Linked DNA regions of Homo sapiens. The protein of the gene in region 3 interacts with the protein of the main gene of each other region in a pairwise test. Each region holds a gene or a part of one and is shown on either strand. Other genes may lie near its edges. The genes, in order: PPP6R3, PPP6R1, ANKRD28 and YTHDC1.

Region 1 (7,294 bases), on a different chromosome or scaffold from region 3:
GTAGAGATGGGGTTTCTCCATGTTGGCCTCAAACTCCAGACCTCAGGTGATCCGCCCACCTTGGCCTCCCAAAGTGCAGGAATTACAGGTGTGAGCCACACACCCGGCCTGAACTTCTTCAATTTAAGCTCTTCTTTATTCAGAGCTAGTTTTTCCTGTGTTAGTGTATGTGTGTGTTAGCATGTCCTTTCTTTTATGAAATTATGATAATAGTAAATACTTAAAAAAAATCATTACAGAATTAAAATTGGGGGCCGGGTGTGGTGGCTCATTCCTGTAATCCTAGCACTTTGGGAGGCCAAGGCAAGCGGATCACTGGAGGTCAGGAGTTCAAGACCAGCCTGGCCAACGTGGTGAAACCCTGTCTCTACTTAAAACACAAAATTAGCTGGGCGTGGTGGTGTGTGCCTGTAATCCCAGCTACTCAGAAGGCAGAGGAAGGAGAGTCGCTGGAACCTGGGAGGCAGAGGTTGCAGTGAGCCAAGATTGTGCCAATGCACTCCAGCCTGGGCAACAAAGCAAGACTCCATCTCAAAAAAAAAAAAAAAAAAATTAAAATTTGGCAGCTCTGAGTCTGTTCCCAAAATTTAAGTCATGATAGCCAGGTGATGGGTGCTTGAGCATGCAGCCTGCTCTTCTCTCTGCTTTTGAATATGTTTGAAACTATTCAGTTACATGTGTGTTTTTTTAATAATTTGTTATTAATTTTTGCGGGTACATAGCAGGTACATATATTTATGGGGTTTTTTTTAAAGTCTAGATGGATTGAAAAGTTTAATATTAATATGAAACATTAAACTACAAAAGGATCAGGAGGAAAGACAGAAGGTGGTGATCCCTGAAATCTAGAAGTTTTAGGGTAGAGACGTCAATCTGTGTAGAATGCAAAGCTTCTAAGTCATTCCTCTGCTTAAAGCCTGTCAGTAGCTCCCCATGGCTCTCAGGACCCAGGCTGAGCTCAGATACCTCCTCCTCCAGGAAGTCCTCCCTGACTTCAACCTTCTGGTTAGGTTAGAAGCAAACCATAAGTGGAGACCTTAGGGGCCCACTTACGTTGGGCAAGGTACTATATGATTTCATTATAATGTATATGGCCCTGTGACCCACCTCAGAGTCAGGGATGGAGGAGCCTGGTGCAGATACTGGCAAATCCTTTGATGATGAGTGAGTATAGGGATGCAAGGGTCGGTGGGGGTGTTGGGTCCTCCCTGGGCTCCCCAGCACGGAAGGACGGACGGGAGCCCAGCCCTGGCTGCCCCCTCCTGCCCATGGCCCAGCCTCCCTCTCAGGCACCAGCCAGTCCCAGGACTCTCTGAAACCTTTCCTGGGCTCCTTAGTCCAGCTCCAAGCTGCCCCTCTGGCCCTGTGCTACACCTGGTGCTCCCTGCTCTCGCTTCCAGCCATCTTCTCTAGAGTATGGCCAGCCCTTCTTCTGCCCGGAAGCTTTCCTTGGCTCCCATGGTCTGAGCATAAACCCAGGTTCCTCCGCCTGGCTTCCAAAGCCTCCATGGTCCCTTCTGCACCTGCTTCTCGAGCTGTTGCCCCAGACCTGAGATCAGCCCCACCCTGCCTTCCACGGGGTGTGCTCCTTCCACCTTGCTGCCTCGGCCTCTTTCCCTGGCATGGCCGCTCCCGCCCTGCCCAGGTGATCAGCCTGTGAATCCCCTCCCTAACCCCCACACAGAGCACACCTCCCAGGCTGGCTTCCGGCTTGACTATGTTCCTCCATGCCTCTCTGAGTAGCAGGATCAATGTGAGAAAGGTCTGCCCTGTCTGCAGCCTCCCCAGAAGCACAGTACTTTTCGTGGCGCGTACACGGGCTGGTAGATACAGTTGTCCCTCTGTATCCGTGGGAGATTGCTTCTGGGACCCCCAAGGATTCTCAAGTCCCATATATAAAATGGCTTAGTACAGTTAACAACAGAGACGTGTTCTGAGAAATGCATCGTTAGGCAATTTTGTCCTTTGCAAACATCACAGGTATACTTAGCACAAACCCAGATGGTCTAGCCTACTACACACCTGGGCTATATGGGATAGCCTATCGCTCCTAGACTACACATCCATACAGCATGTTACTGTGCTGAATACTGAAAGCAGCTGTAACACAATGGTAAATATTTGTGTATCTAAACATAGAAAAGATCCAGTACAGCTGGGCGCGGTGGCTTACGCCTGTAATCCCAGCACTTTGGGAGGCTAAGGTGGGTGGATCACCTGAGGTCAGGAGTTCAAGACCAGCCTGGTCAACATGGTGAAACCCCCATCTCTACTAAAAATACAAAAATTAGTGGGACATGGTGGCATGCACCTGTAATTACAGCTACTGGGGAGGCTGAGGCAGGGAGAATTGCTTGAACCCAGGAGGCAGAGGTTGCAGTGAGCTGAGATCGCCCCATTGTACTCCAGCCTGGGCGACAGAGCAAGACTCCATCTCAAAAAAAAAAAAAAAAAAAGTCCAGTACAACTACAATATCATAATCTTATGAGACCAGTCTTTTTTGTTTTTATTTATTTATTTATTTTTTGAGACAGAGTTTCGCTCTGTCGTCGAGTCTAGAGTTCAGTGGTGCAATCTCGGCTCACTGCAAGCTCCGCCTTCCGGGTTCACGCCATTCTCCTGCCTCAGCCTCCTGAGTAGCTGGGACTACAGGCGCCCGCCACTGCGCCCGGCTATTTTTTTTTTCTTTTTGTATTTTTAGTAGAGACGGGGTTTCACCGTGTTAGCCAGGATGGTCTCGATCTCCTGACCTCGTGATCCACCCGCCTCCGCCTCCCAAAGTGCTGGGATTACAGGCGTGACCGCGCCGTGACCTCCTGTGGATTTTCATGGGACTCTGAGAGGCGCCTCAAATCCATTTTGGAATAAGGCAGGTTATTAGCATGGGGTCTAACCGTGGGCTGTCTCGGTGTCCTGGGCTGGCTCTTGGGGCGGGGGTCCTGATGTCCGGGACCTCGGTCCTACCTGGGAGGCACAGATATGGCGGGGAACGGGAAGCCCGGGGGAGCATTTAGAAGCTCGTGTGCACAGGGAAACCCTGTCTCTACAAAAAAATTAAATTAGCGGGGCCCAGTGGTGCGTGCCTATGGTCCCAGCTACTCGGGAGGCTGAGGTGGGGGGACTGCTTGAGCCCAGGAGGTGGAGGCTGCAGTGAGTCATGATCACCCCACTGCACTCCAGCCTGGACAACAGAGCAAGACCTTGTCTCAAAAAAGACCCCAGGCCAGGCGCGGTGGCTCACCCCTATAACCCCTGCACTTTGGGAGGCTGAGGTGGGCGGATCACCTGAGGTCAGGAGTTCGAGACCAGCCTGGCCAACATGGTGAAACACCCGTCTCTTCTAAAAATACAAAAATTAGCCGGGCATGGTGGCGTGCACTTGTAATCCCAGCTACACGGGAGGCTGAGACAGAACTGCTTGAACCTGGGAGGCGGAGGTTGCAATGAGCTGAGGTCGCACCACTGCACTCCAGCCTGGGGGACAACAGGGAAACTCCGTCTCAAACAAAACCAAACCCCAAAAGTTCTCGTCTAAGTCCTTCTCCCAGGACAAGGGCACTTATCTCTTGGCGGTGCGTCACAGGTAGGGATATTCCGCGATCCCTCACCTTGACCCCGCTACGAGGACAGCCACCTCTTTCAGGTAAAGAGATCGCAATGGGAAATCATTCTGATAAAAATTCCCCTGTGGAGAATGCAGGCATCGATCCCGTTACCTCTCACATACTAAACGAACGCTCCTCCACTTAAGCTGATTCCCTAGCCCGGCCTAACCTTTGCAGCCGGCGCATATTGTGGCTCACGTCACCACCGGTGTCCCCCGCCGCCCCCGCCCCGCCCGGCCAGCTCGCCACCCTATTGGATCCCTCACGGCTCCGGCTCCACGGCCATGATGGGCTTGGCTCAATTTAGTTTTAAAAAGCATTGGCCACTCGGATTGGTGGTCCGAAGCGTCCGTCAAGCGGAGGACCTGCTGTTGCTACGGCGTAGGGGGTCCCAGCCAGGTTTCTCCCCGTTTCTGATTTGTTTCTCAGGCTCCGGGGTCCTAGAGGTTCCGGATCCGTCAAGTCCATGGGAAAAGAATGCGCCCCTCGCGCTTGACTGACGAGGCTTGCGGGCCAATCGGAATGTAGTCAAAGGAGCCGCTAGGCGATCCAATAGGTAGTAGGGGGCGGGAGAGAGGGGCCAATGAGCCTGGAGCTGGGGGCGGGGGCAGGGCCGCGATTGGCTGAGAGGCGGCCAGAGGGCGGGCGGGGGGGAACTCAAGGCCTGCTTGATACGTCCGCCATTTTGGGCGCTTCGCTGATGGTGTCGGTGAGCGCGTTTCCCGCCTGAGCGCAACTAGCGGCGGGTCGTGGGCACCTCCAGGTAATGGGGGTAGGGGAGGCGCCGGAGCAGGCCGCGGCGCGGGGTGTGCGAGGCGCGCGGGCAGGCGCGGGGCCCCTCCACCTGGCCTCAGCGGCTCAGGGAGGGAACGTCCCGGCCCCTCTCCCCTCCCCCCCCGGAATTCGTCGCTCCGCGGGCCCGGGAGGCGCGGCGCCGAGTCCTTCCCGGCCGCTCCCCGTCCGCTCCTGTTAGCCGGGGGCCCCGCCAGGACGGGCGCCGGGAGCGGGACGCGGTCGGGGCGGCGACTTTGTGCCTCGTTGACGTTCGCGGCCTGGCGCGGCGGGCGGGCGAGGCGCGCCCCTGACCCGGCTCTGGCTCCAGCCTTCCCGCCCGCCGGCCGCGGCCCGCAGTCTCGCCCCCCGCCCGGCCCGCGCCCGGTCTCCGCTCCCGCTGGGCCTCCCGGGGGCCTCGGGGAGCGCGTCAAGTTGAGGCAGCAACTCGCCGTCAAGAGTCGCGAAGACCATTGTTGGACTCTGCTCTTCGGGAAACAAGTTTTGTGGGTTTCTGTTAATTCGCCGCAGAGTCATCGGGATCCACACCAGCCAGTTCCGAGGCTCCCAGTACCCTTCCCAGTGGCTTTTTAACTCCTGTGAGGTGGCTTGTATGTAAACTGTCTCGAATGCCTCCCTGGTGTATTTGAGCCGGGGGTGGGGGGGGTGGGTGGTCCTTCTTGTGGCTTGAAGTCCCTCCCTCTTAAAGAAGCCCATTCACTGTTTACTTGGAGGTGTTTCCTGTTGAGGTCCTGCTGGCTGTGATCACAATTTAGACTTTTTAATTATAGGTGAACGGGATGGGTCTTTGGATGTACCTCCGTGCCCTGACGTTTCAACCGCGTGACTTAATGTCATTTTCCTGGTACTTCACGTTTTCTCTGTGGGGCTTTGGGTCTGTTTTGCTTTTATGGGAGGGGGTGCTTGACAGGCGTTCCCTTTCATCCTCGCAGCACTTGTTGACGGGGTGGTGTCCTTTATTCGTGGGACGTTTACTTTGATTTTGTCCTCAAGGTCATGTTGCAGATAGGCTTCAAGGGGGACAGGGACTCCAGGTTTCCAACCACCGAACTGTGCCTCAAGTAGCAAGTGTATGAGACCCAGTTATGGTGGTGGTTGGGTTTTCCTCACTGTGGAGTGGAGTCAGTGACCACTTTTTAGCTCTGTGACCTTGGGCAAGTTACCCAGCTTCTCTTTTTTTTTCTCTGTAGTATGGGAATAATAATAAGTGTCCCAGCCATAAGTTTGTCAGGATAATTGCCCTAATACATGTAAAACAGCTAGAGCTGTGCCTGGCACATACAGTCACCTCAGTGGCTGATTAGTGGTTAGGCTAGTTAATGGCTATTATTGTTTAATTTAAATTTGATTTTTAAATGTTTAGGTACTATTGGGAAGTCAGATGAGCATTTGAGTCCCGACTCTTGGTGACTGCCTTTAGAAAGCTCTGTGTAAGACTCAGTTGGGCTGAAAAAGTAAAACTATAAGTTATTTTAATTTTTTCAGGACAGGGTTTTTGACCATTCCTTAAATTAGGAACATTTACCGGAGTAATTAATGAGTAGTAGCGCCTCATAATGTTTAAAGAGATGGTTAAATACAGAAAAGCCCATCACAAGCTTAAGTCGGGCTTTGTTCCTCATGTGCTTTTGGATACTAGTTTCTGGGTGACTGCCACCCGAATCAGTAACTAGGGTTTCTTAGTGTAAGTCCTCCTTGTTACTGAAAACTGTAAGGGTGCCGTGGATTGCAGTATTCTTCAGCAAAGATAGTTTGGGAAATAGCTTTTGTCCTGGAGGGATACTTTGGAAGGTATTCTCCACTTCAGCATGTCTGGTCAGGGAGTCTAGAACATTGAACAAAATGCCTGCACTCAGTCAGAAATAAACTCACAATCCTTTACCGCTTGCCCGATACTCTCCTCCATGGTGCTCGAAACCTTGCGTGCACCTTCCCCTGGTATTGTTGTGTTTACTTGGGACTTGGTTTGCTGTATTGGAGATGTGTGTTTTGATGGACTCAGTCTTAAGTAGAGATGAGTATCTTGCTGGTGGAACTTAAGGACAGGAAGAAGATTGTTTTCGGTTTAGAACTCTAGCCTTTGTGTAAAGTATAGCAAAGCAAAGTCAACAAGCAAAAAGTTGTTAGTTTCAATGAACTAATTGAGAATTTGAGAATCAGACCATAGCTGAGCAGAAAATGAATAGAAGTAACATTGACAGGATGAGGTTGCCTAGCTTTTTAAGATAAAGCTTTGGCCGGGCGCAGTGGCTCACGCCTGTAATCCCAGCACTTTGGGAGGCCGAGGCTGGCGGATCACTTAAGGTCAGGAGTTCGAGACCAGGCCAACATGTGAAACCTTGTCTCTATTAAAAATACAAAAATTAGTCGGTCATGGTGGCGTGTGACTGTAATCCCAGTTATTTGGGAGGCTGAGGCAGGAGAATCGCTTAAACCTGGGAGGCGGAGGTTGCAGTGAGCCAAGTCCAGCCTAGGAGACAGAGCGAGACTCAGTCTCAGAAAAAAAAAAAAAAAAAAAAAAGATAGGGCTTTGCACCTATTTGGTAGATTATGTGCTTGTTACAAATAAACATCTCTTTAAAACAAGTGTCACGATCGGTATTTTATTTCTATGACAACTTCCATTGTCTAGTTCTATATTTTCAGTATTTGAGAGGCAGCCTCTGTGTGTGTTTGTGTGTGTGTGTGTTTTGGTCTAAAATTTTACAGTATTTTACTAAATAAGAGTAAATGATAGTGAAAATAAAGCTCTTCTATCTGCTCAACTAAAACTCAGCATTGACTTGGTCCTTAGAAGTTATGGTCTGCACCCCAGTATTGGCTGCTACTTTTTCTAATGTACTGAAAAAAAGATCTGGCCTCTTGGCTTTAAACAGCTTTCATATTTCTTTCCTTT
Region 2 (7,025 bases), on a different chromosome or scaffold from region 3:
CCCCGTACTGTCCACTGTGCAGGGAGCACAGGCAGCCACAGAGCAAGGTGCCACGGGCGGGGATTTCTCTTGGTGGACACCGAGACCCGCCTCTGAGGGGCCGGAGAGCCCCTGGGGATGGGCAGCATGCATGGTCTGTGGCCCGTATCCCTCACCTCGGCCTCCTGGGCTCCAGCAGGGTCAGCAGCACCTGGATCCCACTGACGATGACAGACTGGCTCTGCTCCCCCTCGAACATGTTGCTTAAGAGCTGCTCAATCGTCTCCTGCCTGCGGGGGCAGGGGCAGGGGTCAGGGTGAGGGGCCAGGGGCCCAGGGCTTCCCCAAGTCAGCTCCCCCCAGCCTTAGCCTTGCCCGCACACCCACTTCTCCAGGGTGGCCAGCAGTTGGTCAGGCTCTGGGCTGTCCTGGACTTGGATCATCTGCTCCCGGCTCAGGCGGATGATGTCACACAGGGACTGGGATGCGTTGGAATGTTGCTGGAACGGGGAGAGACAGGTGAGGATCCTGGTCGGGCCACCGGGCCCTCTGCAGCCTGGTGCTGGGAGCCCCTCCCATGAGCTGACCATCCAGGGAAAAATGGTCACCCAGACACAGGGACACGTGTTACGAAGGAGGAGGGCACAGAGGCACCAACTGCTGGAGGGAAGATGGTGGAGAGAACAGGAAGCCCGGAAGGCTCCCCAGGACAGGAGGCATCCACACAAGGCCCTCATGACCGCATACAGGGCTGGCAGCACCGCCCACAATGACCCAGAAGGCTCTGACTGATGAGTGAATATGCCCAAGCTGGTCTATCCACACAGGAGAGTGCTAATCAGCCAGGAAAAGGAGTGAAACTGATACATGCAACCACATGAATGAGCCACAAAAACATCATGCTAGAGAAAGAAACCACACACAGATCACGTAGTACATGATTCCAATTATATGAAATGTCCAAAGACAAATCCACAGAGACAGAATAGTCTGGTGGTTGCCGGGGGCTAAGAAGAGAAAGGGGAAGATCAGGAGGAGCTGCTAATGAACACAGGGCATCTTTTTTATTTTTTCTGGAGAAAGGGTCTCGGCTGGGTGTGATGGCACATGCCTATAATCCCAGCAGTCTGAAAGGCCGAGGTGGGGCCGGGCGCGGTGGCTCACGCCTGTAATCCCAGCACTTTGGGAGGCCGAGGCAGGTGGATCACGAGGTCAGGAGTTTGAGACCAGCCTGGCCAACATGGTGAAACCCCATCTCTACTAAAAATAAAAAAATTAGCCAGGCGCAGTGGTAGGCGCCTGTAGTCCCAGCTACTCGGGAGGCTGAGGCAGGAGAATCGCTTGAACCTGGGAGGTGGAGGCTGCAGTGAGCCGAGATCGTGCCACTGCACTCTAGACAGAGCGAGACTCCATCTCAAAAAAAAAAAAAAAAAAAGAAAGGCCAAGGTGGCAGGATCACTTGAGCCCAGGAGTTTGAGACCAGTCGGGGCAACATAGCAAAACTCTATCTCTACAAATACAAAAAAATTAGCCAAGAATGGTGGTGTGCATCTCTAGTTCCAGCTGTTCATGAGGCAGAGGCAGGAGGATTGCTTGAGCCCAGGGGGGTCAAGGCTACAGTGAGGCAAGATCACGCCACTGCACTCCAGCCTGGGCAACAGAGCAAGACACTGTCTCAAAAAAAAGACACGGCCTCTACATCACCCCAGGCTTGAGCGCAGTGGTGCCATCACAGCTCACTGCAGCCCTGAACTCCTGGGCCCAAGAGATCCTCCCGTCTCAGACTCTTGAGTAGCTAGGATTACAGGTGTGCACCACCAATGCCAGCTAATTTTTCAATTTTTTGTAGCGACAACGTCTTGCTATGTTGCCCAGGCTAGTCTCAAACTCCTGGGCTCAAGCAATCCTCCAGCCTCACCTGCCAAAGCGCTGGGATTACAGGCAGGACTTGTTTTTTGGAGTGATAAAAAATAATCTAAATTCAACAAGATGATAAACGCTTTGAATACCCTAAAAGCGCTGAATCGTAAGCTTCGGTGGGTGAGTGGTATGCTGTGCAATTTACATCTCAGTAAAGCTGCTACAAAAGAGAGAAAAGAGAGAAGCATAAGCAGAGCTGAGTCTACCCAACGGGCAGCTGCCAGGGCTTGGCAGTGTGGCCCTGGGCCATGCCTCAGGGTCCTCACAGGGACAGGCCCCAGCCTGGGTGAGCCCAGAGCCATCTCTGCTCTGTAAGCCTGTGCGCCTCTGAGGCAGAAGTTGGCATTGGGAAGGACATGTTGCTCCCAGTGGCCTCGGATATCTGAGGCTCTTGACAAACACCCACTCTACACTAGGCCCTGTGCTGGGCACCAGGACAGAGATGGAGACCCAAGCTGGAGAAACACATGGACATGGGGTCCCCCAGAGCTAAAGGGGAGGATGTGAGGGCGCTTGAAAGCAAGGCTGCTGGACGGACACTTAGAAGGACAGCAAGGGGTTCAATCAGGCAGGAGACAGGGAAAAAGCTGCCAGGCCCAGCAATAGCACAGGCCAGGGTGGGCAGGGACGGATGTGGGGCCAGCGCTTGGACAGGCGATGAGGAGGGCCCCTCCCTGCAAGGCATTATGTGCCAAGTTCCTGGGTCATGAAAAAAACCTTTCCAGCACTTTCGGAGGCCACAGTGGGAGAATCACTTGAGTCAAGTTTCTTTCCTTTTCTCAAAGGGCATGGATACACCTGGTTCTCAATGCTCTCTTTTCTCACCAATTTCTTTTCTTTCTTTTTTTTTTTTTGAGACAGGGTCTCACTGTGTCACCCAGGCTGGAGTGCAGTGGTGTGATCATGACTCACTATAGCCTTGACCTCCCGGCTCAAGCAATCCTCCTACCTGAGCTTCCCAAGTAGCTGGGACTACAGGTGTGCAACACCACACTCAGCTAAGTTTTTACGTAGAGACGGGGTGTTACTATGTTGCCCAAGCTGGTCTCAAACTCATGGGCTCAAGTAATCCTCCCACCTCGCCCTCCCAAAGTGCTGGAATTACAGGCGTGAGCCACTGCGTCCAGCCCCAATTCCTCTTTTAAAAGTGGGGAAGTGGGCATGGGGAAGGAACTCTAAGGGGAATCCGCAGGGGCATCGGCAGCACTCACATTCTCATCCTTCGACGGGTGGATCTGCTCAATCAGCCGCTGGACGATCTTCTCCTCGTTGAGCCACTGAGGGTGAGAAGGCGAGGGATGCATCGCTGTCCACCACGCCCAGCCCCCCACCCCCAGAGGAGCCGGCCCTGCTCACATTGACAACATCCTGCCTCAGCTGAGGCCGCTCCACACAGGTGAGCAGGCGCAGCAGGAGGTCCATGATGGCCGAGGTGCCAATGTGCTGCAGCAGCAGGTCCACGAAGTCATCCTTCTTCCGAAGAAAGGACACGAGCTGGGGGCACACGGGCTGCGTCATGCACAGGGCCTGGCCCAGCCACCACCCCTCAACCCACGGTGGCGCCAGGGTGGGGGCCAGGGCACCTGGTCTGTCTTGCGGTTGATGAGGATGCCCATGACCTTGCTGAAGAAGCTGGCCAGCAGTGGGTTGAGGCTGCCGGTGCTCTGCAGGAAGCCGTAGAGCCGGTTCAGAAGGGACTCATCAGCACCCAGGGCATCATTGATCTGGGGCACATCTGAGGTCAGAATCTCGCAGGCCACACTGGGGTACCTGGGAGGCAAGCACAGGCGGGTGGGGGCTCGGGTCGGAGGCCGGGGGCAGGGGGCGGCAAGGCTCCACCCTCTTCTCTGCACCGGGCACTGGGTTTCTGGGAACTGCAGAGACCCCTGTCCAGGAAGGGGAAAGGGCAGAGGACAGGGTGACGCAGAAACAAGGGCCCACACCAGGCCTCCTCCACCCTGCTAACACCCAACCATCCCATCCTAGGCTCCTTACCACCCCCAAGACAAGCTGGTCCTGAAGCTCCTGCGCTTCCCAATCCCCCAGCAGCTAACACTCATCCCTTTTGCCTCTCAGCGGCTTCACTTGCAACCCCGTATGCTGCCCCAGCTCCGGCTGACTCCTGGAACCTTGCTCAACTTCCAACCTCACCTCCTGCCTCCCTCCTCCAAACTTTCACACGGTGCCTGACGGCTCCAAGACAAGAGCTGCCCCACCAGCGTGCCACTCAAGGCCCTGAGGGGCCACAGTCTGCTCCAGGACTGTGGGGAGGTACCCCTTGGGAGGCTGAGGCAGGCATATCACTTGAGGTCAGAAGTTCAAGACCAGCCTGGGCAACATGGCGAAACCCTGTCTCTACCAAAAATACAAAAATTAGCTGGGCGTGCTGGCTTATAGTCCCAGCTACTTAGGAGGGTGAGGCAGGAGAATCACTTGAACTTGGGAGGAGGAGGTTGCAGTGAGCCGATCATGCCTCTGCACTCCAACCTGGTGATAAAGTGAGTCTCAAAAAAAAAAAAAAAAGTGTCTTTTCAGCATCGCTTGGATTAAAAAATAAGTAAAGTGTCTTCAATAGCAGACAAGTGTTTCACAAACATACAAAAAAAGTTTAATAAAAAGTAAATAAAATAAAAGGCGGCGAATAAAGAGAAAAACCAGCCGGGCATGTCGTCACATGCCTGTGGTCCCAGCTACTCGGGCAACTGAGGCGGGAGGATCACCTGGGCCCGTGAATTTGTGGCTGCCGTGACCCGTGACTGTGCCACTGCCCTCCAGAGCACAGGCTTGGTCTGCACCCGGTGAGCTGTGAGGCCTTGTGCAGGAGCCTGGCTGCTCCCAGCCTCGTCTTCCTCATCCCCAAACTGGAGTTTACTGACACTGACGCATTTCAGGGTAGCTGTGAGGCTTGCGTAGTGAAGGTATGTGTGATGCTGATAGGGACGGGCTGGCCAGGAGCTGGGGAACTCACTTGTAGCGCAGCCGCTCCTCACCGCTATCTGGCGGCTCCTGGGTGACCCAGGCCACCATTGCTTGCAGGTGGGGTGGCTGCAGCAGGAAGTCCAGCAGCTTGCGGTTGACGACCTTGCACTCCTGCAGCACGTCTTCCTCGTCCAGCAGCTCGGGCAGGCTCAGGTCCTCCCGCTCCAGCAGCGTGTCCAGGTGCGAGCTTGTGTGCAGGTCAAACTTCCAAAACATGGCGCCCTGCAGGCATAGACACAACCAGCGCCGCGTCAGACGCCCCAGGGAGTCCCCACTGGACGAGGCACTGACCACAGGGGCTGAGTGCCCACCTTGGGCACAGCCTCTCCCCAAGTCCCAGCCCTCTGCCTCATGCTGAGCCCGGCCCCGCCCCGGGACTGCCCGCAGGCTCACTGCCTCCATCACTCAGGCTTAAGGCTCCCAGTGAGCACCAGGCTCCTGCAGTTGCCCTCGAGCCTGCCCCTCTTCCCCCATCTCCAGCCTCCCGGCCGCCTCGCCTGAGGTCCAGGGGGTCATTTCACACCTGAGGCCTCAGGCCTGGTGAAGTCCCCAGGTGTGGACCATGTGCAGGGCCTGCGAGAAGAGGCTGGACCCTGTGCACTGAGGGGCCTCGGGCCCTGTCTCCCCATGAGGGTCTGGGTCCACTATCCCTACTTTTGGGAGAGACACTGCAGAGGCAGGGCCTTAACCTCTGGCTTCAAATTTGCTTCAACCTGTATTTGCTCAACAAACTCAGATGCCCGATGACTTCCAGCACACGGCTGCTGCTTGGCCCAGCAAATCCCCCAAGGCTACGTGGGAGGCATGGGGCGGCGGCAGGGGGAAGAGAGGAAGTCTGTGCATCTCCAGGCTGTGGCCGTTGCCTGGACACCACTCACACACAAACACACCCCAACCATCCTCTCACCCAGCACCTGGGCTGGAACAAGGAAGAGGAAAAGTTGGAAGGGAGGGGCTCCCAGAATAGTCACTGACCAGGACCTGAAGGAACCCAGGGTGGGATAGACAGATTCTGTGGGGGAAGAACAAAGCTGGCAACACCCGGCCCTGACCCTGTCCCCATCTGGAGCTGGCTCCCGCCCTCTGGAGGACAGTGCCTGGTTCCTCAGCCTGGTTCCAGCCCCTAAACGCTCGTGCATGGGAACTCACTGGCAATAAGGAAACACACACAGAGTATTAACAAGATGCCAGGCAACTCCATTCTGAGCCCCTGCCCTGTACTACATCACTGCTCCGCAGAGCCCTAGAAAGCCTCCACACAGACCTTCCACTACAGACCTGACCTGTGACCTGTGCTCTGGGCACTTGATGACAATGGTCCTGGCTCTGCATGTGTGCTGTGCACATGATGTCCAAGCTCACCAGCAGCCCCCAAGAAAGCTGTCATCACTCCGCCACACAGGACAAGGGGCAACCAAAGCCCGGTAAGTCAGGCGGCATCCTGGAATCTCGAAGGCCATCTGGTCCCAGCAGACAGCCTTCACGGAGCTCTCACCAGTTAAGACACTGACCAGAGCTCACGCTCATTACCTGCCTCCTGACAACCGCATCACCAGCTAAGGCAGAGGCCACTGCTACCCCCAAGTCACTACAGAGGATGCTGAGAACAGAGCAGAGCCGGCACAAGAGGCCAAGGGTGCCTCTCCCGCAGGCCCTCACCACCATCACTCCCAGGCACAGATGCTAGTCCCTCTCCTCCAATGCCCTTCTGCAGCTTCTTCCAGTTCAGTCATTCCCTCTGCACAGGCCTCCACCATCTCCTCGAGCCCTGCTGACCTGTCACCTCAGTGCCCACCAGCCCCCAGGCCTGACTCAGCCCCAGGCCCCAGGGAAGAGACAGGGAGACGTGGAGCACCAGGCCCAGGGAAGAGACTTCATCGGAGCTTAGGAGAGCAGCCTGGGCTGACAAAACGCAGGACAGAGTCCCACACATGGCCTCAGGCAGGTCGAACGCCTCTTGGGCCTCCTTTCCTCTCCTTCCTGGCTAGCTTGAAGCCAGGCCAGCCTGGGGCCAGGATCTCCTTGCTCATCCACCCTGACCACCCTAAGGCTGGGCTCAGCACAGAAGGTTGCAGTCCAGACCTTGCTCCCAGTCTGCCCGTCTGCCTCGGTAACTCTAGATTGGCAACAATCTTGATATAACACTAT
Region 3 (6,887 bases):
AGTGTCCTGGATCATAAATATATTACCTGCAGAGAGTTAAGTCTGATCTATTATGAGGATTTTGAGTTGTGTTTTGAATACCTAGTGACTTTCTTGCAGTGGCTCTAATAATCACATAGATAATTGCATGGATTCTGGCCTGTGTAGCCTAGAAAGCAGCTATTCCTTGATTTCTCCCCACTCACCCTCTACCTCATTTTCTTTTAACTCTGTTCATAAGACTTTTTTTTCCTAAAGTATATGGATAGATGAGGCGTAGCTCAAGAAGATTGGTGAGGATTCTTGATCTGTCAGAAATGTTTTCTATAACATTGTTTGAACCCACTTCCTTACCATCTTTCACCACAAGCTTTTTATTTTCAAATACTCAGAGACCAGCTTGTTACTTGCCACAGAGTAGCCACTTAATATACCCTGAGTATTCTATTCTATGATAATACGGAGTTCACAGATGTGTAAGACAAAAGGTGAGGTTTAGGTTGGATCTTGTTGCAGAAAGGAAAAATCGTTTGTGTCAAAAAAAGAAATTCAGGTGTAACAATTAGGAACCCAAAAATTATCTTCCAGTGACTTAATGTTTTTATAATCAGTAAAAAGGTTTAAGCCAGCTTTACCATTATGTGATTCCATTAATAGTAGGAGTAAGCTCTTAATAGGATACATTTTAGTATAAAGAATAGAAGGATTATAAAGCTGTCAGAGTTGAACTTGTTAGCTTATTAAAAACTTAATCTAATATGGCCTAAAAAATAAGTACCAAAGAAAATAACCACATCCCCTTGATATTTCTCTAAGTGGAAAAAAATGTTGAACTTACAGTTTGCACAATCTTTATCAGCAGTTTTTTATCAGAAGTACTTTCTCTGTTTCTAAGTTCTTAAATATTCACTTGTCTCCTTTTAAGATGTGAGTTCCTTGAGGGTAGGAGCCTGTCTTATTCAATAGAAGAAGACACAAAACAGTGCTGCTAATTTAAATAATTTAAAAACTGACATATTTCTCTTAGTATTTTTTATCTGCTTTTGATTTTATAATATACCATGGGCTAGTACTTTCTATCCTTTTTCCCAAAGGAATTTTACAGTCCCTAAACTGTAAAATCTAGTGAAGGTAGAAGAATGGAAGAACCTGTAGTCTTTCTTGCCTAAGTTTACTGCTCCCTCTCCCCAATTAACACTTAGTATGTGCTTGTCTAGTTACTAGAGTCTAAAATGAGCTTTTAGCAGACTCTCAAGAGATCACTGAAAAGTGTGGGGACTTGGCAACTGAATGGGATCTCCAGACATTAATCTGAATTACCTCACTTGTACTGGGTCAAGAGGAGGAGGAGTTTAATAGCCTTTGATCCACTCACTGGCTTCACAAGGGATATCATTCAGCTATCCCAAATATCCATAACAGTAAGGTTATCTTGTTTAGATTTCACAACACTATGAAGTAAATTCTGTTAATGTCATTTAATAGATGTTAAAATGAGCACAGAGAGGTTACTAAATAAGTGAGTAGCCCAGGATCCCAGAATTAGGTTAGTGGGAAGCCTGGATTAGAACTTCAGGCAATTTGACCACAAAATAGCCTACATTCTCAAGCACTGTACTGTTACTCTATTTCTCTTAGACAAAAATCTTTGCAGGTTATTTTTTTCTTATATAAGTGTCAAGAAATTTAGGCTTAGGGAATTTAAGTGGTTTGTCCAAGGACACAGCTAGGAAATGATGGAAGCAGAATTGAACTTCAGGTGGGCTGACTCCTGAGCCCTTAGTTTTAACCATCACCCCATACCTTTGTTTTATATCCTGTCAACTTCTGAAATTTTAATTGTTCACTTATTAGAGATATGAAACTCACTTTGTTGCACCTTAATGCCACCTATATTTTCTGGTTAAAATATATGTATACCAACACACCCCCACTATTCTTGTTTATAAATCTCCACCCTTCCAGAGTCTCGTGACGACAGAATTCATTTCAATGAAATTATTTATAGGTGGAAGAAAGTGGAAGGAGACAATATGTATGAACACAGTCCCTACCTTCAAGGAGTTTGTTTTCTGGTTGGGAAAGACCTAAGTGTGGAGGTTGACTTAGAACAAGAAACAGGATGTACCTGCTTAAGTCTAAGTAGGTGAACTTAGGTACTAGATACTTTGGAACAAGTTAAGATTGTTAAGATAAAAAGAGATTTTGCTTTGTGGGCTTGGGAACCCTGAAGATGAAATATAGGATATTGTTACTATAGTTGTTTCACTTTCAGATATTTCAAATATTAAGATTTTTTGATTCAGCTATGTGGAGATGGATAACATAATTGATGTATGTTCAATATTTACATACCTTTAATTTGGCATAAAAGTATTTTATATATTTTAAAATATAACTAATGAATTGTTAGCATGTTTTAATTGGTACAAATATGTTAGAGTTATTGCTTCTTCCATAGATTGATACATTTTATAGCTTTCAATGGTTCTTGTTTTAAATTCTGACATTCTTATATTTGTATCATGCTGGGATTTTTTGTTTTTTTTTTCCTTTTTATGGTTTTAAGACTTGCTTTGAAGTACCCATTTAAAAATAACTCGTTTTAGAATATAGCAATAAATAGTATATTCCTTTGTTACCTAAACTTTTCACAACCTTTATAGGTTACCTGTTTGTTAAGATCACTTTTATAAGCTAGTATTACAGGTTGCAAAGATCTGGAGATGAGTGGAGAGAAGAGAGTGTGTCTGTATGTGTGTGTACTCAGTGATAGCAGAATAGATTAGAAAGAGTATGTGTTTAAAATAACACACAACTTTATTAATTTATACAACTTTGGGTAAAATACATCATTTCTGAGTCTGTTTTTCCCTCTATAATGGGAATACAGCAAGGTTATTGTATTAAATGAGAATGTACAGCACATAGCATATCACAGATGTTCAAAAGTAACTATTATGTTTATTATTGTTTATTAATAAAAATGCTAGTTAATATGAAGAACACAGATTGAAGGGGGACCATGGTATTTTCTTTGTAAGTTTTCTCTTGAGAAATATCCCCCATGTTGGGTAAACAGAGAAAGAAGAAAAAAAACGATGAAATGATTGGCTTTGACATTTATTTATGGCTTTGGGAAATTTATAGGGAGGGAGATTATTTGTATTACCCTGTGCCCTTTTGACATAGGTAATTCAGGACGAAGGACATTTTTTTTTTCATGTACCTCTTTAACAGATTTTTAAGGCTTTATTCCCTATCCAAATGGGAAGGTAGGATTATTTTATTTCTTCAGTGAAAAATCAAATGATTTATATAATTTTAGAGTTAGGATTTCTACATTATGAAATTTTTGCTTTTCCCTTTAAAATATGAATCAATGATTGATTAAATTCACCAATTTAGAAATTGTTAGACAATCTTAAATTTCATTTGTTTAAGCTTTGCATTCTAGAAAATAAAATACACCTGGCAGATTAAAACTGATCTTGGTAAAAATATGAATAAAACAATTTCATGGTTTTTATAATCTAATAAAATATTTCTCCATCTTTAAACCTTTTTTATGAGTCCATTGCAGGCATATTCTTACTGCAACTGTCATTATAGGGTTAAACATTTGCTTTATTGTAACACACGAAAGCAGTTAAGCCGTTTGGAATTGTTTACTTGCTAAAACCACTGTTAGTCAGCAGAGGCAGTACACCAGATTTCCTTGTGGCTTTTAGTGGAAAATGTTAAAAGCGCACTCATTTTTCAGTTATAGAATTTTTTAGTTTGATTTGGATTAGTCACAGAACTGGCATGAACCTTCTAATTGTGAAGGCTGTCCAAATGCACTATTTTTTTCTCCTGCTAGAGGAAGTTACATCCCGAGAAGTAGCTCAGATCTCTGGTAAGTGTAACATGTGAGCATTACTAGGCATTTCATCCTGTGGGTCTGCAGTCTTTGCTCTTCAGACTGTTGCTCCGTTGGAATGCTTCTGTGGGACTGATACTGAGGTTCTATAGATATTTTTTAAGGACCTACTCATTTGGGGATGTCAGTGGTGTTTTGCAAGATCATCTGAGGAACAGGAAAGCATTTGAAATCTGAAAAGGATAACTGTGGCGGTTTTCACAGTGGAAGGAAACTATATTGGCAAAGAGGCAGATGACTGAATAAAGTAGTTGGCTCAAAGAAGATGCACAGTCTGCTATTTTTTTCTCTGAATGAAGACTGTTTAATGGAAGCTGTATTCATGTGGAGATCAAAGGAAACACTGGAATGATACACTACTATGTTTTTCCCCCCCCTTTTTTTTTTTAAAGAAAACAAAAAGCCTGAAGCAGTAATTTGAGCTCAAATGCCTTCTAATTCCTTCACAGCCTGCTTGTTCTACTAGGATTCTCCACTAACACCATTTCTGCCTGGTGCCTGTGCCCTTTTGCTGGAGCAGCCACAGACAACTGCCTGATGGAGAAAGAATGAACGCTCTGCCTTGCTTATGCTATCGATGGGAATAAAGCTAACTGTGTTTCTTCTATTATATGGGAAACCTGGATTAATCAAGCTGTATTCTAGTACCAAGAGTCGTATTGTCTCTTGTGGTCTGACTCATCACATGTAAACGTACTGCAGCTTTGCTATTAATGCAGAGTGGTTTTTTTTTTTTTGTTTTTGTTTTTTGCCCCTTTCCCAAACACTGAAAGAATTGTTAACCTCTGAGCTTCATTTTCAGGATTTGTGCTGAGCTCTAGATCTTTTTTCTGTGAATAGTATCTGCATTAAACCAGTGATGAAGAAATGAAGACAAATTAGAAGTGGAAACAGAATAGTGAGATTTTATTTTTTATTTTCAATTATAAGCAAAACAGCTACTGGTAACTATATGACCTTGCAGGCAAGAGTGGGTATCGCTGTGATCATCTCTGTCACAGCAGTTGTTTCTCATTTCATTCTATATTGTGTGGTGTTGTGTCACCAAAAACAATGATTGTTTTGTGCAAGTAAATTTCAGAGATAGAGCAATAAGACTATTTTGGTAGAGGAAAAATATTTTTAAATGAGCTTGGACTCAGTTTTAGTTATTGACATGTTGGTGTGAAATTTCTTCTTAAGTATTGCAGTAATCCAACAGAAATAATAGAATTTCGTTATATTTAGGAAGTTACAAATTATGTAGTCATAATTTTAAACTTGTTTTTCCAGTAGTACTTATTAACTTTAAAAAAAAAAAAAACCCAGCTGTGCTGTTCAGAGAATGTTTGTAAGTGTTGTACAGAAGAGGAGGAAAAACTACTTGTGCTCTTCCAACTGTGACTTTTATCACATAGCTTGGAATTTAGTGTTTTAAAAGATCGAATGAGTCGAGTGTGTATTGTTGTTTTGGAGGAGGTAGAAGATGAATCTCCTGCATTCATTTCTAAATTGCCACAGGAAAATAAATCCCTACATTCTCCACCTTCTGGAAATGTATTGGTAAGATATGTAAGTTTATATGTTTACTATATTCTACTGAACTAGTAGTATAAATCTTGTTTTTTAAGAATAGATGTAAATTTCCAATAGTTTCTTTACAAACCCAAATTAAAGCAATACGTGTGTAGATATGATGCAGTATTTTTGTATAAAATGCACATTTTTCGTTTTTACTTTTTTGAATGCTGAGATAACATTTCAGTCTTTACTATGTCTTAATCTCTTTAAAAGACTGTTTAAAAATAATTTGAGAATTAGTAGTTATGGCAACCACGTTTCTGTTTTCATTTTGTGGTTTCAGAAACTGATGTAACAAGAATCAGGAACTCTGCATATTTTAGGAAAGGTTGACTACCCCCAGCAACACTAAGGCATGGCCTTTTCTGTAATGAATTTTATGTATTTACATATAAGACTTTATATGAGATTCAGTCTTCATCTTTAACCTTGGTTTTAGTGCTACTGTCAGCTGGCTCCTTGACTAGTATAGTATACCTTATCAAGAGGCTGTATCGTTGATTAAGAAATTATTATATTTAGTTATGCATGTGTTTGTCTTTTCAAGTTATTTAAGTATCCAGTATTTTTTGGTCTTTGATTAGTGGCTATTTTCATCAACTGCCAGGTTTGCTTTCTTGGGATTTGTATCTTTATACATGTAATGCTAATCCATGTAAGATAATTTGATGCCCCAAACAGACCTTTTCAAAAAAGCCTTCCTTCATGGGCTGGAAATTGCTTAAAAAGTTCTGTCCCACAAGTAGATGTTGAGATCACACATTTGTATTTGGAAGAGTCTTTCTTTTTGTCATATACAGAAACAAAAGGCTTCTACTTACAAGAAATAAAATCTGATTTTGTTTATTATACTACCTAAATTGGGTCAAACTGAATTGATTTTTTTTTTTAATTAGGCCTTTTTTTTCCAAGTAGGAATCCTGTACTTTGACATGATTTGGTTTTATGAAACTTCTGGCTAATGTCAAAAGTGATTATTGCTACAGGGAAGAAAACTTGTAGATTCCAGAACTATGTAAAATATCCTTAGTCACCCCACATGGATGATTCTAATGTTTTTATTACTCTCTTCTATTTTAGCCATCACTGGTGCAAGCTATATTTAACGGAGATCCTGATGAAGTTCGAGCACTAATATTTAAGAAAGAAGATGTTAACTTTCAGGTAAAACAGTTAATTCACTGATGCCAGCCTTTAAAACTGCTTTTTAAAATTCTTTCCTAGAATTGTGATTTTTGTTTACAAGACATAATATAACTCTGTAACAGTTGTTTTAAATGAGGGCAGGAAGGTATTGAGGCAAAAGGGAAAACACTGGACATATACTCAGGGCAGTAGCAGCCAGTAGGGGTCTTTTGTTCTCCCAGCTTTTTACTTTGAAATTTTTCAAACATAGGGAAGTTAAAAAAACATGCTGACTACCCAT
Region 4 (7,025 bases), on a different chromosome or scaffold from region 3:
CAGAACAATTACATTTGTGGCTTCAGGAAAAAAACAAAGCCCACATGAATTACAGAAAGGTCTATTAATTAACCTGGGGGCTATAAACAGGTTAAATGGGATTCAAATTTTCCCCAAAGTGGGAAAGAAATCTGTGACTGAAGAGAATAGTTAATACAAACGATAAGGTTACATAGGAAATGGAAAAGATATCATTTTCCTTTACATTTGGAAACAGACACAATCTAAAGATATCTGAAAATTACTATGTCTGGAATAGCAAAATTGATCATTTTGGGTGGTACCAATGCTGATATGTACTTTCTATCATTTTTCTAAAATGAAAACAGGCTATATGGGTTTTTATTTTTGTTTACTTTTAAAAAATCTTATTTAAAATCAAGATATGTCAAACAAAAAAGCTTCTCTCATCATCTAGATTCATGTTTTTGCTAAGAAAAATTTCTTCAAGATCTGAATGGTGGCAAACACCATTTTCGGACTCTAAATTATAAAAAAAATAGTCTGATAGAAGTAAATCAATGTTTTACAGATGTTTAATAAGTACTGGGTCAAAGCTCACTAATCAGTAAAAAAGTAGATCCAACAGGTCTTCACAGAATCAAATACATTTGTAGAAGACAAAAAGAAAAAATTTCAAGACTATCACAATGAAACAGGCAAATAATGCTATACAAATCTTTTCATAAAATCACTAGATCTTATTCAGAAATATCATCCCCGAACCCTGAACATTTATATTATATACTTTAGACATGCTAAATTTAATACAGAATGAAATAATTTTGCAGAATGTTAATTTAAATAAATTTAAGTTTCAAACACACTTAAAGCCTGGTTTTCCTATAAAAAGGGGTATTACTGTTTTAAAGTTTTAACGAATTCAAATTCAGATACTGGTTGTAGTTTTAGAAAGCACCTACAACCTTTTTCAAGACAACAAATATTAACCAATGCTTACTACTTTTTAAAAATACTTTGTCACTTTTAAAATTTTATCACTTTTAAAATATATCATATATACAAATCATATAAAATAGAGCATGTTTAATCATTCATTACTTTGCAGATAAAGAAAGAGAAGCTCAAATGTTCCAGTTGACCAAATACACTTGTCTAGTAACAAATGGATATTAGTATGAAGTTCCGGCTTTAGAAATTGACAGTTAAATCAGATGGGGAACAATAAAAGCAACTTTAACCAAAGTATAAAGAACACAAATGCAAAATATTAAAAGGGCATATATACTAGAACATAAATTTCAAATTAGTGCACCAGAAAGCTCTATATCTTTAACATTACAACATTTAAAATCTACTGAAATATTCAAAATCAACTATAACACCCTCACTTAAATGATGTACACACTTTTATCCGTATTATAGTCCATAACATCAATAAACTGTGTGGTTTTACCACAAACTGGCAAACTAAAACCTACAGGATAAACATGGCCCATTGCCTATTTAGAATGGCCTGCAAGAATGGTTTTTACGTTTTTAAGGCGCTTATTAACAAGAAAAAAAAAAAAGCAAAGAATATGTCAGAGAACACTTACAGCCCACAAAGTCTATTTGGCCCTTTACAAAGAGTTTTGCCAACCCCTGATATAATACAAATGACCAAATTTTAAGTACTTTTCTCCATCACTGAAACTCCTTATATATACACTGGAATATAATATACAAGGGGAAAAGTCTTGGAGGTTAAGGAAATGCAGGTTATAGCTTGCATTTAGGTATCAGGAAATTCCCAGTCTTTCTGAGTTCAAGATTCTTCACCTCTGATAAGAGGCACTTAAAAAAGGTCAGTTTTGGGGAAAGGAAAAGCAGGACATTTGAATCTTCTATGAGTTTTTCAACCTGTAAGAAGACTCTCCTTCCTTATAACTATTGGACTTTAATAAAACCTGCCTGCCCCAACCCTCTTGCTAATGACTGGGCTATGTGATATATATAAAATCTGGTCCAGAACACAAAACAAAATTCCTTCTTCAACAAAACAGGTATGGTATATGCATACATGTTCTGATTATCTACTGCTGTATAAGATGATCACCCTAAAACTTGACTTAAAATGGTAACACCTTTCATTATGGCTCATGGTTCCAGGGCTCAACCGGGGTCTCCCATGTGGCTGCAGTCAAATGGGGCTGGGGCTGGGGCTGAAATCATCTGAAGGCTTGTTCATTGACAAGTCTCGTTGATGTCTAGGCTGGGAAGATTCAAAGCTGGAGCTTCTCCAACATTTCTGTGTGTGTGATTACTCATTACTATGGCAACCACCGAGTAGGCAGATCTTTTACATGGTAGTTTAGGACTCTCGTGTCCCAACAGAGACGGGAACAGGTAGAAATCCAGCAACACCATCACAGTATTTATTCATCACAAAAGCTTACCTAGCTTCAAACAGAGGGGACACATATTCCAATCACTGTTGACAGAAGTGTCATACATAATACATGACAGATGTTTCCAAAATTACTATAGTTTTATTTAAGGGTAAATATTTTAATTATATACTTGAGGTGCATTTTTAATAACAAAAATTCATTTAAATAGGTCAATGTTAAAGCTTATAGTATTAAGTTATAAAGCTAATGTAAACTGCTGCTTCTGGCCATATTCTTCACTGACTTGAAAAAGTACACTTTGCATACATTTTAATTCATTTTTTTAACGTAGAATGAATTATAAAAGAAGAAACATTTTAATACTCTCACAAGCTACTGCTGTTAAAGACTATAATCATCACTGGCATATCCTTTTTGAAAAGAAATAATTATCTCTTTTAGATATAAAGTAATATCCACTAGTTCTAGGTTGACTTTCTTTTAACCTACCTGAACAAACGTTTTTAACCATTTCCTTTGTCCTGAAATTTAACATTATTGATATTCTATATAGAGATATGTATACTTTCAATTACTTCATAATAGTTTGACAGTAGTATCCCAACCCAAGAATAACAACAGTAAACAAAGATTAGAAATGCCAGGTTAAGAAAAGGCCTATAAGCATACAATTCATGCACTACAAAAATCCTAATTTCTATGACATAAAGCACTTCACATTGAAAGCCTTTTTTAGATGTCTATATAGAGAACTATAGACATTAAAAATCACTTTTTTTTTAATTTGTTTTTTTGGAGACAGAGTCTCTCTCTGTCACCCAGGCTGGAGTGCAGTGGCGCAATCTGGGATCACTGCAACCTCCACTTCCCAGGTTCAAGTGATTCTCCTGCCTCAGCCTCCCGAGTAGCTAGGATTACAGAGGCCCGCCACACCATGCCCAGCTAATTTTTGTTATTTTTAGTAGAGACAGGGTTTCACCATGTTGTCCAGGCTGTTCTCGAACTCCTGACCTCAGGTGATCCACCTGCCTTGGCCTCCCAAAGTCTTGGGATTATAGGCATGAGCCACCGTGCCCGGCCTTAAAAAATCACTTAAAATCTTTAAAAAAAAAAAAAAAAAAATTTTTTTTTTTTTTGAGACAGTCTCACTGTTGCCGAGGCTGGAGTGCAGTGACATGATCTCAACTCACTGCAACCTCCGCCTCTGAGGTTCAAGCAATTCTCCCTGCCTCAGCCTCCCAAGTAGCTGGGATTACAGGCACCTGCCACCACGCCGAGCTAAATTTTTATATTTTTAGTAGAGAAGTGGTTTTGCCATGTTGGCCATGCTGGTCTTGAACTCCTGACCTCAGGTTAAAATCTATAAAATTTTGTTCCAAAATTAAGATGTCACAAAAAGATGGATTTTTTTATAATGTGCCAGTTCAAGAAATAAGCTTAATGAAACAATCCTACATTAAACAGTATTTACATTTAGAGCTAAAATTCAAATCTATCTAAAAGTTTTACACTAGCAGTCTAGAGGATAAACTCAGCTCTTGAATGCTGTTTTTAAAAATTCTAAGGATTTAATATGAAAACCCACTTAAAAAAATACTATTTGATTATTAGGGGCCCAGATTCTCACCTGAAAACAACCAGCTGGAAGAGTCTAGTCTTCTGTTAAGACACAGAGAAGGTAACATATGTCAAAGTTTTGCATGAGACAATCTGGGTTTGTATCTGGTGAATGAGTTTGTATCTGGTGAATCAGTATTACTACCTGAACAAAGAGCATGCTGGCTCTTAAAAAAAAAAAAAAACAAACTCATGATACCTAACGTATTAAGCAAGTACTTTATCTTTATCTGCCAGATTCTGGCATGCACACACATCTGCAACCCCTGCATAACACTGATCTTAAACTTGAAAAAACCCAAGGCTCAGTTTAATACACTAAGGCACAGGAACATCAAACTAGTTTTAGTATACCGTATATAATACTTTGGGAAAGAGGAGGAAAGCTAAAGGGGACAATCCTACTCAACTCCAGAAGATTAACTTCCTTGACAGTTGCAAGCACTGTGTTGTCAGATCTTCCACATTTTCAAGAGGACTCTGAAACCCAGATTTTTATTTGGAATTGCATGACTCTTCAGTGCTGCCTCAATTAAAAATGAAACAGCTGGCTGATAGATTCCACAGTTGGCTGCTAGATTCCTCCGTGAAAGTATAATCACGTGTGAATGTTTTGTATTAATATTATACACAAACTAATAGCAAAATGAGTTTTGAGGTAAAGGTACAGATTCCCAGGATACAGGAAGTAAACAAGGATATAAAAAGAGTAACAGGTCGGGCATGGTGGTTCACACTTGTAATCCCAGCATTTTGGGAGGCCAAAGCAGGCATATAGCTTGAGCTCAGGAGCTTGAAATCTGCTTGGGCAACATGATGAAACCCCATCTCTACAAAAAACACAAAAATTAGTGGTGTGCACCGCACCTGTAGTCTCAGCTACTTAGGAAGCTGAAGTGGGAGAATCACCAGAGTCTGGGAGGTCGCGGCTGCAGTGAGCCCTGATCGCACTACTGCACTTCAGCCTGGGCAACAGAGTAAGACCCTGTCTCCCCGCCAACAACAAAAAAAATCATTATTTTTAAGGCCTGTTCAAAAACTGACAAGATGTTAGAAATAACAAAGCTAGCTGTTTGTTGCTTGGCTGGGGGATTTTTGTTTTAGGTAAACATGGGAACTTAAAATTTACCATAATCTTTACATTCTTGGCCAGGAAGGTCACAAACTTTAACTCTAGGGATATCAGGGTAGAAAATTAACCTTTATCTGGGACAGTCATTTTTTACTGCAGAAGCTTCTGGGTCAGAAGACAGTGCTATTTATTAACATGTGAGGTTCCAGCATCAGACTAAGATTTAGTATTTAAGGAAAGTTAAATACTAAATATACTACACATTTTGTTTTCTAACACAAGGTACCAAAATAAATTATATTTTAATTCATTTAATATAATTTTAGTGGGACTTGGCAATGGAGCAAGATTACTAGAACCTCCCCCTTCTATTGTCTTGTAATGTACGTTGTACATTTAGACCAGTTTCTCAGTTTTTGTCATTGAAAATCGTCATTCCTCCAAATGAAGTTTAAAAACTTGGATTTCCCATCCAAAACCGCTCTTATAAAAACATACAATTTAAGTGCAAAGATATCATTTTAAATTTTCTACCTTACTTATACTATAGGTAAAATAAATATATTGGAGTATCAATATGTACTCTATGCCTTACAGAGCCCAAACTAAAGTGAACCAAGACAGGCAATTTTATCCTAAGAAATTACTATAGTGAGGGCCATAGTATATACACATAGTATATACAAATGTTGTGGCACAGTCATCATTTTGATGTTCAGATACACAAATATTTCCCATTGTGTTACTACTGCCTACAGTAGCACGCCCAACAGATCTGTTGCCTAGGGACAATAGACTATACCATACAGCCTAGATATGTAGTAGGTTATGCCACCTAAGTTTGTGTAAACACACTATGATAACACAACAAAACCGCCTAACAATGCCCATCTTCATTGTTAAATGACACGACTGTGTTTGTGTGCACGTGACTGTGTGCATGTGTGTGCACATGACTGTGTGTGTACATATATATATATATATATATATACACACACACCTGCATGTAACCGTCTGTATAACGGCTGGGCACGGTGGCTCACACCTGTAATTCCAGCACTTTGGGAGGCTAAGGCAGGCAGACTGCTTAAGCCCGGGAGTTCAAGACAATCCTGGGCAACATAGGAAGACCTCGTCTCTACTAAAAATAAAAAATTAGCTGGGCATGGTGGCACACACCTGTAGTCCCAGCTACTAGGGAGCCCTTGGGAGGTTGGGGATGCAGTGAGCCGTGACTGCTCCACTGCACTCCAGCCTAGGCGACAGAAGCCGTCTGAAAACAACTGTGTGTATATATACAGTAGTCCCTCACTTATCCAAGGTTTTGCTTTTGAGGGTTTGTTACCCCCAGTCAACTGAGTCAATCACTGTCCAAAGATATAAAAATGGAGAATTCCAGAAATAATTCATAAGTTTTAAATTGTGCGCTAAGTAGTGTGATGAAATTACGCACTGTCCCACTCTGTCCTGCCTGGAAAATGAATCATCCCTTTGGTCAACAAATATTTGCATTGCATATGTTACCTGCCATTAGTCATTTAGTAACTGTCTCGGGTAGTAGATCAACTGTCCACATATGGCAGTGTCAGTGTTCAAAGTAACTCTTATTTTACTTAATAATAGCCCCAAAGCACAAGAGTAGTGATGATGGCATACTGTAATGACTGTTCTACTTTATTATTGTTGTGGTTGATCTCTTACAGTCCCTGACTTATAAATTAAACTTCATCATAGGTATATACATATAGAAAAAAACATAGTATAGATAGGATATAGTAATATCCATTGTTTCAGGTATCCACTGTGGATCTTAGAACGTATTTACCAGGAAAATAAGGCTGGTAGAGGTTGGGGGTCAGGGGAGAACTGTTGTATAACTTAAACTGAGAAACTCTTAGCTTTCGTTATCATACTGCACATGTCATTTAACCAGTCAGTCAATGAAGTCCAACCTGGTAAATACTCAAGGTACTGAAACACAA

The links.
Region 1: the proteins of ANKRD28 (region 3) and PPP6R3 interact in binary tests that used the Homo sapiens proteins (3 or more experiments, as listed by UniProt).
Region 2: the proteins of ANKRD28 (region 3) and PPP6R1 interact in binary tests that used the Homo sapiens proteins (3 or more experiments, as listed by UniProt).
Region 4: the proteins of ANKRD28 (region 3) and YTHDC1 interact in binary tests that used the Homo sapiens proteins (3 or more experiments, as listed by UniProt).

The regions. Positions count from the first base shown.
Region 1 is NC_000011.10:68,456,459-68,463,752, forward strand, and holds the start of PPP6R3 (serine/threonine-protein phosphatase 6 regulatory subunit 3), read left to right. Parts: upstream 1-4,293; 5' UTR 4,294-4,369; intron 4,370-5,168; exon of another isoform or gene 5,169-5,242; intron 5,243-7,294.
Region 2 is NC_000019.10:55,242,011-55,249,035, forward strand, and holds part of PPP6R1 (serine/threonine-protein phosphatase 6 regulatory subunit 1), read right to left. Parts: intron 5,100-7,025; coding exon of another isoform or gene 5,094-5,099; coding exon 4,867-5,093; intron 3,669-4,866; coding exon 3,482-3,668; intron 3,393-3,481; coding exon 3,255-3,392; intron 3,241-3,254; exon of another isoform or gene 3,176-3,240; coding exon 3,110-3,175; intron 479-3,109; coding exon 366-478; intron 270-365; coding exon 156-269; intron 1-155. UniProt on the Homo sapiens protein: Regulatory subunit of protein phosphatase 6 (PP6). May function as a scaffolding PP6 subunit. Involved in the PP6-mediated dephosphorylation of NFKBIE opposing its degradation in response to TNF-alpha.
Region 3 is NC_000003.12:15,794,961-15,801,847, reverse strand, and holds the start of ANKRD28 (serine/threonine-protein phosphatase 6 regulatory ankyrin repeat subunit A), read left to right. Parts: upstream 1-3,868; 5' UTR 3,869-5,326; coding exon 5,327-5,443; coding exon of another isoform or gene 5,444-5,452; intron 5,453-6,541; coding exon 6,542-6,625; intron 6,626-6,887. UniProt on the Homo sapiens protein: Regulatory subunit of protein phosphatase 6 (PP6) that may be involved in the recognition of phosphoprotein substrates. Involved in the PP6-mediated dephosphorylation of NFKBIE opposing its degradation in response to TNF-alpha.
Region 4 is NC_000004.12:68,340,068-68,347,092, forward strand, and holds part of YTHDC1 (YTH domain-containing protein 1), read right to left. Parts: intron 1-7,025. UniProt on the Homo sapiens protein: Regulator of alternative splicing that specifically recognizes and binds N6-methyladenosine (m6A)-containing RNAs.